Linked DNA regions of Homo sapiens: all the other regions are linked to region 1. The links come from fine-mapping of genetic effects on gene expression. A gene starts in region 1. Each other region holds a variant in brackets. All regions are shown on one strand. Distances are from middle to middle.

The links. PIP is the estimated chance that this variant, and not a neighbour inherited with it, causes the effect. A credible set is the group of variants that fine-mapping cannot tell apart.
Region 2: its variant is the best candidate, but not a certain one, in a credible set for the expression of RASGRF2 in cerebellar hemisphere (GTEx, PIP 0.64).
Region 3: its variant is the best candidate, but not a certain one, in a credible set for the expression of RASGRF2 in ovary (GTEx, PIP 0.75).

Annotation. Positions count from the first base shown.
Region 1 is chr5:80,958,243-80,962,486 of GRCh38, forward strand. RASGRF2 (Ras protein specific guanine nucleotide releasing factor 2) reads left to right here and starts at 2,121. Exons shown (of 27, transcript NM_006909.3): 1 at 2,121-2,784. The coding sequence starts at 2,497. RASGRF2-AS1 (RASGRF2 antisense RNA 1) reads right to left here and starts at 2,665. Exons shown (of 4, transcript NR_105015.1): 1 at 2,539-2,665. RefSeq lists an enhancer at 2,224-2,945.
Region 2 is chr5:81,287,189-81,291,432 of GRCh38, forward strand. All of the region lies in intron 1 of CKMT2-AS1 (CKMT2 antisense RNA 1), which reads right to left. Among named protein-coding and RNA genes, the nearest start is that of CKMT2-AS1, 12 kb to the right of the region's middle. The variant G/A (reference allele first, on the strand shown) is at 2,316.
Region 3 is chr5:80,924,460-80,928,703 of GRCh38, forward strand. No RefSeq gene overlaps it. Among named protein-coding and RNA genes, the nearest start is that of RASGRF2, 34 kb to the right of the region's middle. The variant GC/G (reference allele first, on the strand shown) is at 2,238.

The DNA.
Region 1 (4,244 bases):
ACATTTAAGGAGACAGAGATGGTAACTGAGACATTGCTTATTGAAGAAGAGAATCTTTCACATCTGAAAAAACTCAAGTGCGTTAGAAGGTTTGACTACTCATGGCAAAATAGTTTTTGTGCTGATTTCACACTCTTACTGGTTTCTACTAAAAAAATGGAGCTTATCAACCACACAGGTGTCTACTCACTTACGGTTCTCACAGCTGGGATTGGACCACAGAGAAAGAAATAAAAGGCCTCCTGAGGCAATCACCAGCTCCTCTGCATCTAGAATCTGGCTCCAAAATGTTGCCTGCATTTACTTACTGTCTCTGTACTTGTGTCTTCTCTGAAGAACAATGCAAACTTCCAGCTGGGTTAAACCCAATTTAGCACAGCACTGTCCTTTAGATATTTTTAAAAACGTAAAGAGAAATGACCACTGTTCTCACGCTGTAATTTCAAAATGGCAATTTCCCTACTATATACTTGTTAAAAGTGAAAATTTTTTAAAAAGGTAAAAGGAAAAAAAAACCCCACTCAGCTGCTCAGTGAGGCAGAGTTAAAATATTCTGCAGAAACAGCACTTATGAAACAGGCAGAACCCCTGGGGCTACCAATTCATGAACACACAACTGGCAGTACAAGACAGGTGTATTGTCGTAGACTCATCACCCAGAAAAGCATTATTATTTACTTTTAACAATAAACATTTTATGATGGCACTCCGTTTTAGTGATAAATGACTGGGGAAAATAAAAAATGTGTATAGCAGAATCAAATATAGGCCCTCCCCGGGGGTTTCACTGGCTTTCTCTCACAGCTGCTGGCTACATTATTTCTTTTCCACTTACATTTTTACAGCATGGGGTTGGGGCGGGGGGGTGGCTCTTGGTTTTCTGGTTGTACCTGTCAGATTTGTTAATCAAATGAATCCAGTCCTACAAACGATGAGCCTGTGACAGCTGGCCTTTGGGGTTGGATTCTGCCCTGGGCAGCAAAGTGTCCCTTATTTGGGTATTTTTTTCCAGGTTGAAAACTCGGCACTTAAAATTTAGCATCTTACCACTGTGAAATAACAGGCATTCCGAAAGAACTTCGGCATCTGATGCCTTTCCGGGAACACTTGGGCCACTCTCCTTAACCTTTACCGGCAGTTTTAAATACTACAATGCAGGTACAAGCAGAAAAGCCAAGGATGCGGGCTATGCAAAGCCACTCTGTGACTCTACCTACTGCCATGGGAACGTACTTATGGATGTGGCATGTGAGTGTGTGTGTATGTGTGAGTGGGTTTGTGAAAGTGTGTGGATTCGTGCGAATACGTGTGTGAGTGCTTTGTGTGTATTTTTGGATGAATTTGTGAATGTACATGTGTGTTCATCTGTGTGTGTGTTTGATTATCTGCTTATGAGTCTGTATGATTGTGAACGTGTGAGTATATGTGTGCTGTTTGTGTGACTGTATGAGTGTAATGTGTGTATGAATGTATGTTTGAATGTGGGTTTGAGTGAATGTGTGGGTTGTGTGTGAATGTGTGTGTAAGTGAGCATATCACTGCGTGCATGTGTGTAGCTCCTTAAGTGTGTATCTGAATGTGGGTTTTATTTTTGTGCGCGGGAACGCACATTGTGGGTGTATTTGTCTATATGCATTTGTGCGTTGTGACTGTGTGTTGAGTGTGAGCGTTGTGAGAATGTGTATTTGTGTGTCATGAGTGTGTGCGCGTGTGTTTTTGTGCATATGTGCGCGCATTGTGTTTGTGTGCATTTGTGAGTGTATTTTTGTGCGTCTGAGTGTGTGCATTGTGGATCTGGGTGAATGTACTGGTCTGCGTGTGTGTGGGTGTGCGTGTGTGTGTGCGCGCGTTGTGCGCGAGTGTGCGAGCGCGTGTGAGCGGGTGTGTGGTGCGGCCGGGCGCCTCCACCTCCCTGATCCGCCCCATCCCGGCGGGCGCCCGAGCAGAGGCAGCGGCCCGGGCCGGGGCGGGCGAGGGAGGGACGCGAGCCGGGGCAAGCGGGCTGCGCCACCGCCGGCGCCGCGCCGACTTTGCCCTTTAAATCGGTCTCCAAGCCGATTACAGCTGAGCTCCCACGTGACGTTTTACCTTCTGTCTCCCGGAGCGCGTTGCCCGAGGACAGTCCTTCCCCGGCTGCCGCCCCAGCCCGCCGCGGGGGCTCGGCTCCCGCAACTTTGGGCGAAGCGGCGGCCGGCTCGGGCGCCCTCGCGGGGCCGCGCTCCACGCGGGCGTTGGGGGCTTGGGGGGCTCCGGGGGCTCGGCCGGGAGGGTGGTGGTTAGGGCGGAGAGCGTGCCTCGGCCCCAGCCCGCGCCCCTGCCACCGCGCGCCGCGGCCTCCCGAAAGCGGGCGGGGTGCCCTGCGCGCGGCGTGGGGAAAGGGGGCGCCCTTCGCCGGCCGGGACCTGAGCGGTCGCGCCCTCGAGGGAGCCAGCTGGGCCATGGCCGCGAGGCAGGGGTGAGACCGGCGGCCACCCGTGAGCCCTCCGCACCCGCACCATGCAGAAGAGCGTGCGCTACAACGAGGGGCACGCCCTGTACCTGGCCTTTCTGGCGCGCAAGGAGGGCACCAAGCGCGGCTTCCTGAGTAAGAAGACGGCCGAGGCGAGCCGCTGGCACGAGAAGTGGTTCGCCCTCTACCAGAATGTGCTCTTCTACTTCGAGGGCGAGCAGAGCTGCCGCCCGGCGGGCATGTACCTCCTGGAGGGCTGCAGCTGCGAACGAACGCCCGCGCCACCCAGGGCCGGCGCCGGGCAGGGAGGCGTCCGAGACGCGCTGGACAAGCAGGTACCGCGCGCCTTCTCTCCGCGGTCTCCCAGCCTTGATCGCCGCACTCCCTTGCCGTCCTAATCCGGGGATCAGGGGTCGGGGGTCGTGAAAGAGTGCGGGGACTATGCTCCGAAATCCCCCCGCGTCACCAGTGGCGGGACATCTCCACGCTCCTTCCGATCTTCATCCAGGGATTCTCCCATCTCCATACCCCTCCACCCCACTGCCAAGTGATCAGTCAGAATAGTGGCCCGACTTGCTTTCATTACCCTGGTAGAGGTCGAGTCGTTTCAGCTTCTCTGCCAACCATCTATTGCTTCTCTAGACCTGGCTCGCCAGATTTTTGTCTGGTGACATGTATTGACACCTGTTGGGTGTAGATTGGCAAGACGGAACTAACTTATTTGGAAAAGTTTGATTTCTGCCATACCCGGCTGGCGCGTGTAGATTTCTTTGCCTGCAGATGTTTGACCACTGGTTGGGCTGGGAACAAGCGGGGCTCCCAAGCCGGACAGACACTTTCTGTTGGTCATTTTCAATCAGTCTTTGTGATTTCGGTCAGTTGGCCTTGCTAACATTTGACCTGCTGGGTGTAATTATGAAGGTAAATGTGTATTCATATTCCTCAGGATTAATATTTGGTAGCCACATTCTTGCTATGTTTAAAAATGTGGGCATTTTTAAAGAACGCTTCTGTACTTTTAAATGAATGCTTTGAAAATGAATGCGACCTTTTAATTCTGGGTCATAATTTTATTAGTTTTGCTGTGTGCTCATGGTCGCGGGGTGGGGGAGAAAAACCCTTTAAGTCTTAGTGATCCCAGCCCCTCATTCCTGCAAACACAAAGTTTGTATGTTTCCAATCACCGTTTGGTTATTAAAGTTAAAGCAGACTAATTTTATGCCCCTAATGTTCTCATTTAGCTTCTCAATCCCCACCTTGATATGAAAAAGGCTGATTGTTTTTGCTGTTGCGTAAAAATATTCGCAGCTGAATTTTCCATGTGAGTTCAGATCAGACAGCATCTACCGCACACCACAGAGGCTGTGGGAGGTGCTAGCAATGGAGTGATCCGTAAGATGCCTACCTAACCCTTTGGGGCTCATAAAACAATGTGTAAAATTAAGAGGAGTTAAAACTAGACCGACCGGAAGTTTGAGTTGTTTTCACTATAAATCATTAACAGACTTAAGTGATTAAACTTGTTATAACACTTATAAATCTGAAAGTTTAAATATGCTCTTTAGTTTCTGAGGGCTTGTTCAGAGTCATTTGAAAAACTGATTTCCAACTTTATAGATATAGATACTAGAAATATAAACATAAATTTCAAGTCATGCATTTTAGAATTTAAATTGGGAGAAGAGTTTTGAGGAAACATTTTTTTTCAGGAATATATATAAGTAACATTCTATTGGTGGGATTTTTTTTAAGGTATGTGTTCCAAGGCCCCGCAGGAACCAAAATGAATAGGTTT
Region 2 (4,244 bases), 330 kb after region 1:
ATGGTTATCATGGAACCTAAAAAAGGGGAATTAAGAGATCATTACTGGGCCAGGAGCGGTGGCTCATGCCTGTAATCCTAGCACTTTGGGAGGCCGAGGCAGGTGGATCAACCTGAGGTCAGGAGTTTGAGATGAGCATGGCCAACATGGTGAAACCTCATCTCTACTAAAAATACAAGAAATTATCCGGGTGTGGTGGCAGATGCTTGTAATCCCAGCTACTCGGGAGGCTGAGGCATGAGAATCACTTGAACCCAGGAGGCAGAGGTTGCAGTGAGCCGAGATCGCACCACTGCACTCCAGCCTGGACAACAAGAGTGAAACTTCATGTTAAAAAAAAAAAAAAAAGAGCGAGATCGTAACTGATGAATAAACCTTCAGCACCATCAGAGAAAGCTCTATTCACCCTAGGGGTTAGACTGTTTGACCATGTTCAACCAATCACTTATCTGAGTGCTGTGAAAACACCCACACCAGAAATGAAGGATTAAAGAGGTATACCATAATTAATCATGTATTCATTCTGCAAACATAATCTATATCTGAAAATGAGTAAACCTAGTTTGAGGTATGTAATTATGAAACTGTAAAAGCAGGATTTAAGAAGAGTTTTTTAATAGCTTCATGAAACTTACGAGTTATAGTGGAAATCCAATGAACTGATATTATCATTTACTTTTTACTATATACATCAGATTCCCTATTCTCCAAAAGTGTATTTGACTCATAAGCTGTATCTATTTTCAACCTGAATGCCAAATTTTGGCATCATCACAAAATCTTTGTTTGCATAAAACTTATTTTTGGCATAAAAGCAATTATGAAAATAGAAAACTCTTTTAAATAATGTAGATGAGGCCAAAAAGGAAGACACTGGGCTCTTGTAAAAACTGTACTGCTGAAGACACGTGCAAACATGCATGAAACAGATGTAAATATAGACACAATTTGTGAACACTGCAGACAGGGCCTGAATTACTTGGAACTCATCAGGACTGATGAGGCACTAACTGCATTCAGGTGCACTTCAATCAGAACTAGATTATACCATTAAAATTAACGAGCCATAAGAAGACTTTAATGAATAAAAGAGGACTGGTATTAAAATCTTTTACACATTTTACTCATTTGGCAACAATGTGGTTAACAGTGCAGTCACATCTCTTTGTGGTAGACAGGCAAAAAATTTAATTATTCAAGTTTTTTTTTTTTTTAAGATGGAGTCTCGCTCTGTCGCCCAGGCTGGAGTGCAGTGGCACGATCTCAGCTCACTGCAACCTCTGCCTCCCATGTTCAAGCAGTTCTCTTGCCTCAGCCTCCCGAGTAGCTGGGATTACAAGGGCCTGCCACCACGCCTGGCTAATTTTTGTATTTTTGGTAGAGACGGGGTTTCACCATGTTGGCCAGGCTGGTCTCAAACTCCTAACCTCAAGTGATCCGCCCACCTCAGCCTCCCAAACTGCTGGGATTACAAGCGTGAGCCACCGCGCCCAGCCTTAAGATGTTTTTTAAGTAACACACTCTCTGGCACATCGCTTCGATATTCACTTAAATGGCCTATTGGAGGCCGAGGAGGGCGGATCACGAGGTCAGGAGATTGCGACCATCCTGGCTAACATGGTGAAACCCCGTCTCTACAAAAAAAATACAAAAAAAATTAGCTGGGCGTGGTGGCGGGCGCCCGTAGTCCCAGCTACTCCGGAGGCTGAGGCAGGGGAATGGCGTGAACCCAGGAGGCGGAGCTTGCAGTGAGCAGAGATCGAGCCACTGCTTTCCAGCCTGGGCGACTGAGGGAGACTCTGTCTCAAAAAAAAAAAAAAAAAAAAAAAAGAGATCAACTTATCTGTATCTGTCTTTTGCCATCCTGTTATTTCTTAAAATAGAAACAAAACATCTTTCTCTGATCCCAAATTTTCTCATTATACTGCTGAGATGTTGTTTTTTCCCTCTTTTAAGTTGTTAGTGCTTTTCTAAGCCAATAAGGCCCCAATTAAAAAAAAAAAAACTCTTTTCTAGGAATATATTCCCCATTCCATGACAGGGATGGAAAGTCCAACCATCTTCAAATAGGGCTACTATAACATTCTGCAATATATAAAGTTGGCAAGGAAAGATGAATATTTGTCAGGTATCAATGTGTACTTTATTATTAGCCCAGCAAGTAATAGAAATATTAGACAATCTCAGGAAGATAACATGGCCATATCTCTCAGCACAGGGAAGGAAACAGACATTTAAAATTCTGGATCCACAAAACCTCACATATCAATATTAATCTTGAATGTAAATGATCTAAATGCCCCCACTTAAAAGGC[G/A]CAGAGTGGCAAGTTGGATTAGAAAAGCAAGACCTATCCATCTGCTGTCTTCAAGAGACCAATCTCACACATAAGGACACCCACAGACTCAGTAAAAGGTTGGAAAAAGATCTATCATGCAATGGAAAACAAAAGAGCAGGGGTCGCTATTTTTATATCAGCTAAAACAGACTAAACCAATAACAGCAAAAAAAAAAAAAAGGACAAAGAAGGGCATTATATAATGATAAAGGGTTCAATTCAACAAGAAGATGTAACTATCCTAAATATATATATGCACACAACACTGGGGCAACAAGATTCATAAAACAAGTACTTCTACATCTACAAAAAGACTTAAGACAGCCACCCAGTAATAGTGGAAGACTCCAACACCACACTGACAACATTAGAAAGATCATCAAGGTAGAAAACTAACAAAGAAACTCTAAACTGACATTTGACATTTGACCAACTGGATCTAATAGACATCTATAAAATACTTCCACCTATCAACCACAGAATATACATTCTTATTTTATGTTCTGGGGTACATATGCAGGATGTGCAGGTTTGTTACCTAGGTAAATGTGTGCCATGGTGGTTTGCTGCACCTGTCAACCCATCACCTAAGTATTAAGCTCAGCATGCATTAGCTATTTTTCCTGATGCTCTCCCTCCCCTAGCCCCTGACCCTGCCTACAGGCCCCAGTGTGTGCTGTTCCCCTCCCTGTGTCCATGTGTTCTCATTGTTCAACTCTCACTTATAAGTGAGAATATGCAGTATTTGGTTTTGTGTTCCTGCTTTAGTTTGCCACAAGACACATTCTTATATGCACATGGGAACATACTCCAAGATCAACCACATCCTGGGCATAAACCAAGTCTTAATAAACTAAAAAAAAAATCAAAATCATACCAACCATACTCTCAAAGTATAGTGGGATAAAAACAGAAATAAATGCCAAGAAGATCGCTCAAAACCACACAATTACATGGAAATTAAACAACTTAGTCCCAGAGGACTTTTGGGTAAACAAGAAAATTAAGGCAGAAATCAAAAAATTCTTTGAAAGAAATGAAAATAGACAACATACCAAAATATCTAAGATACAGCAAAAACTGTACTTGAAATGTTAGAAAAATCTCAAATTAATGACCTAACATCAGACAGAGGAACTAGAAAAATAAGAACCCCAAAGCTAGCAGAAGAAAAGAAATTTTAGTTATTTCAGAGCAGAACCAAACAAAATTCAGACCCAAAAGTCCATACAAAGAATCAACAAAACCAAAAATTGGTTTTCTGAAGGATAAAAAAGATCACAGACCACTACCTAGATTAACAAAGAAAAAAGAGAGATGATCCAAATAAGCACAGTTAGATATGACAAAGGTGGCCAGGCATGGTGGCTCATGCCTGTAATCCTAGCACTTTAGGAGGACAAGGTGGGTGGATCACTTGAGCCCAGGAGTTCAAGACCACCTGGGTAACATGATGAAACCCTGTCTCTACAAAAGTTAGCTGGGCATGGTGGCATGCACCTGTAGTCCCAGCTACTTGGGAGGCTGAAGTGGGAGGATTACCTGAGCCTAGGGAGGTCAAGACCTCAGTGAGCCAATGATCATGGCACTGCATTCCAGCCTGGGCAAAAGGGTAAGACCCTGTCTCTAAATAAATGACAAAGGTGATATTACCACCAATCCCACAGAAATACAAAAGATACTGAGAGACTATTATGAACACCTCTATGCACACAAACTAGAAAATCAAGAGGAAATGGACACATTCCTGGAAACACACAATCTCCTAAGATTGGATCAGGGAGAAACTGAAATCCTGAATAGACCGGTATCAAGTTCTGAAATTGAAACCAGTGATAAAAAAAATCTATAAGCCAATAAAAGCCCCAGACCAGATGGATCCACAGCAGAATTCTAACAGACATACAA
Region 3 (4,244 bases), 34 kb before region 1:
GGTAAAAACCAGAACAGACACTTCACTAAAGAAGTGACTGCATCATTTTATATTTCTACCAGCATTGCTTGAGGGTTCCAATCCACATCCTTGCGTACACTTATTTTCTGTTTTTTTTAAAAAATTATTATAATCATCATAATGGTGTGAAGTAGTATCTCATTGTAGGTTTGATTTGAATTTCCTAATAACAAACGATGCTGAGTATCTTTTCTTGTGCTTATTGGCCATTTGTATAACTTCTTTTGAAAAATGTCTATTCAAATCCCTTGCTCACTTTTTAATTGGATGGTCTTTTTTTGTTCGGTTTAAGTGTTCTTTATACATTCTGGACACTAGACCCTTATCTGATATATAATTTTGTGTGATAAAGAATTTGGCTGGCTTTTGTCTCTAGCTCCTGGGAGGTAGCATTGAAACCCTTGGAATTTCCCAGGGGACAAGAATGTTTTTGTTATTTATGGTGGGCACCTCAGACCATACCTGATAGTTTATGCTATGGAGGTGATTCATGGTAGACTCCTTAAGCTAAAATACACTCAATCTTTTTGATATGAACCATTGGACCAAATACATCTATTATGGACTTAATGGGGTTATATTCCTTTTTCAGTTACACATTCAAGTTTAGAGACATTATAAATGGCATTTAAATAACAATGGTTTGCAATTGGTAAATAAGTAGGTTCACCACAATTCCTCATAATAACCTTTTATATCTCAAAGGCAGTTTTTGTCACCTCTTAGCCTTCTTAATCCAGGCAAAATAACTGTGAGGCCTCTTTCCATTTCTTTAATAATTCTGATGTATGTCTTTTTTCAAAAATTGTAAAGCCTCTTTCAATTTCTGTAATAATTCTGGTGTATGTCTTTTTTTCAGTGCTTAGAAGATTATATTCTTTTAAATTGTAAACATTGGCTCTAAATTCATGTTTTGTCGCAATTCCTTAGAATAGTATGTTATGAGAGGTAAAAACTGCCTTTGAAAATATGTAAGTAATACAGTCATCCCCTCTTATCTGCTGTTTCACTTTCCATGGTTTTAGTTACTGGCAGTACAGTACAATAAGCTATTTTGAGAGAGAGAGAGAGAGAGAGAGAGAGAGAGAGAGAGACTACATCGATATAACCTTTATTACAGGATATTGTTATAATTGCTCTATTTTATTATTGTTGTTGTTAATTTCTTACTGTGCCTAATTTACAAATTAAAATTTATCATAAGTATGCATGAATAGGAAAAAACAGTATATATAGGATTTAGTACTATCTGCAGTTTCAAGCATCCACTGGGAGTCTTCAAATGCATCCCCCCTATTGTACATTGGTTTGGATTATAGATGCAGTCAGCCAGTAGCATAAATAGAAAGCATGTATGCTTGACCTTTTATTTGCTTCTCAGACCCTCAACATTCAGCAGGAATCTGCTCTCTATATAAGAAATAAAATCTGTCTTTATCTGGAGACTAGGACAGTTTCACTGGGTTTAGAAAGACAGCATTTTCCACCTTGCACTAACATTTATAGTCATCCTCCATGCCCTGAAGTGTCCCATTTCTTTTGATTATCTGATCAACACAATGATATTATTTTGAACACTGAGTTTCCTGGGTACAAAAGGAGAAGCTGTCAGTTTAGTTGCACAAAGCAGTTTAGACTGATGATTGCAATAGATTCATGTGAATTTGCCAATACTTTGACCTTAATCCCTCTTCCTCAAAAATCAATGAAACTAAAATAAAACGATATTGGCAAACTGGCCTGTCATTCACAGTTACCATTTCTGAAAGATCACTGTAGAACTACCACAGTGCAGAGGAATTTAGATTTTTATAAACCCTTCATAATTAACCCATTATTCCTAGGTAGATTACTTGTGATTTTCATTCTATTTTATTTATGGTACTATTTTTGTGGTTTTTTTTTTTTACAATGAACATCTACTTTTTGGTGTTTTTAATTGTGGGAAAAATACTGAAAATCTACTTTTATAATTAGTACTTTTATAATTAGATATTTCCATTTTAGAATGGGGTCTATTGGCTTTTTATGATGAAAGAATCTTTGCTGAGATTTGCATTAAGACAAGTTCATATAAGGCACAACAGAGTAAACATCCACATACTCCTGATGATCTGATCTAGTTTTTGTTATTTTAAAAATTGGGTGTCAGATAGTGTTTTCAGTCTCTGCTAAATGTGCTTATGACCTCTTTCTCTCCCCATTTGTATTATCCT[GC/G]ATTGGTCACCCAGCCTCAATGGGTGTCAGTTTCCTACTCTGTAAAACAGAACAAATGTTACTTTGTTATGAGGTTCAAAGCACTCAATAGAGCACCTAACAAGTAGATGGAAAAAAAAGGAGCTTTTTTTTTTTTCTGACTGAGAAAGACCAAATATTTTGTTCAGTTACTTATATGGCTTGATACCGAATTTCATTTGACATTTTGGATTCTGGTCACTACCTTTTCCTATGTTTAATGCTTCCAAATGGTCAGAGCCTTCAGTTTTCCTCTACATCTTTCTCATGATGTTCATGACAACTGTGTTATAAAGAAAAGAAGTAAAGATGTGACTTTGATGATATTGGAGCTGTTTATTCAACAGAGATTTACAGTGACATATCTAGGTTGTGCATTGGTCCAGTTTGCATAGAGGGAATATCAAGTTCCCAAACAGCAGCTTATCTGTTATGAGTTGTCCAGTGCCTGGGTTTTTTTCCACTCCTGACTGAGGCTTGAGTATCACCAGACACAGGGTTGGATCAGGCTTGGGAAAGGTGTTGGAGCTACTCTGCCAGAAGGTGAATAAGGGAAGGAGACTATTGACTTTCTTAGACCGAGCTGATAGGCAGTACATGTGAGAGAAAGATGAATAACAACAGAGTAAGGGTCAACTCCCACCCCCACCCCACCCACCCACACACACACACACATTAATTGTATGTAAAGGGCTGGTGCTAGCTGCTTTGAGAATCATAAAAGGAAGTGAAACAGAATGTCCCACCCTTAAGGAACTTATTCAAGATAGGCATCAAGGATGAGGCACATGAGTTAAACAGAGTTCACAGTTAAATATCAACATTAAAGATTCCAGTAGGCAGCCTCCGAATAGAGTTGACTGGTATAGAACCTGCTATGGTGACCCAGAGGAAAGAGAGAAAGCTGTGGGCTGATGGAATGAGCAAAGGTTTCACGGAAGACATGGGATTGGACACGTGGCAGAATTCAAATGGAGCTGAGCAATGGCATGAGAGCAGGAATGGCCAGATGTGTTAGGTAAGGATGTGCAGAAGCATTGTGGGAGGCAGAAGTGGGGCTGAGGCTGCAGAGATGGCAGGAATACGTGCCTTTGTATAAGTCAGGGTCCTGTTTCCTCATCCTCCTGAGAAGATGGAGCACACATTCCGCACCCTCCTTACCGTTCTGACCTTCTGTAATCCTGAGAGCTGACCTGTGGATAACAACTTGCTTTCAAAAGTGGGGATCTATTGGCTTGTGTGACTGAGAAGGACAAGAGCAGATCCAGGGAGGCTGTGTTACAGCTTGTCTACCTCCTGTTCCTCCACCTGGAAAGGCAGTTACGATGGGGTGGCTGAGACTGTGGGCTCCTCCCAGGCTGCCAGGGTTCACGTTTGGCTCCTCCTCTTTCTGGCTATGCTTCAGTTTTATCCTCTGATATAAAGAGTGACAATCATGGCAACTACCTCCAGGGTTCTTGTGTGAGAGTGCTCAGAAGAATGTCTGGTGCATAGGGAGGGCTTAATACATGCTAGCTATTAGTCTAATCTATGCTTGGCTGACTCTCTCAAGCTCCAACTACATTCAGGCTTCTGCTGCAGAGGAGAAAGCGGAAGCTGACCCCAGGTACCATCTTTATGACTCAGCCTTACAGCCAGGAGGCAGCCCCAGAATCCTATCCTGGGACATATGATGAGGAGCCTGGGGTGGAAAAAAATGGAGTGTTAGGTATACAAAGAGTGCTCCTCTGCACACACATCTGATCCTCACAACTGAGTCTATGGAGAAGCAAAGTATGTACTCTACATTTTAAGGGTGAAGAAACCAAGGTATTAAAAACTCAAGAGATTCCTGGGAAAATGACAAAACCAGGAATCCACCCAGGCCTGCCGCTCTGTTTCACTGTTATCACCAAATCTCAAAATGATTTGTTCCCATGAAATATAGAGTGCCTTTGATGTCCCCTGGAGATATTTTCATTATGAATGACAGCTGCTTCGGAGTCAAT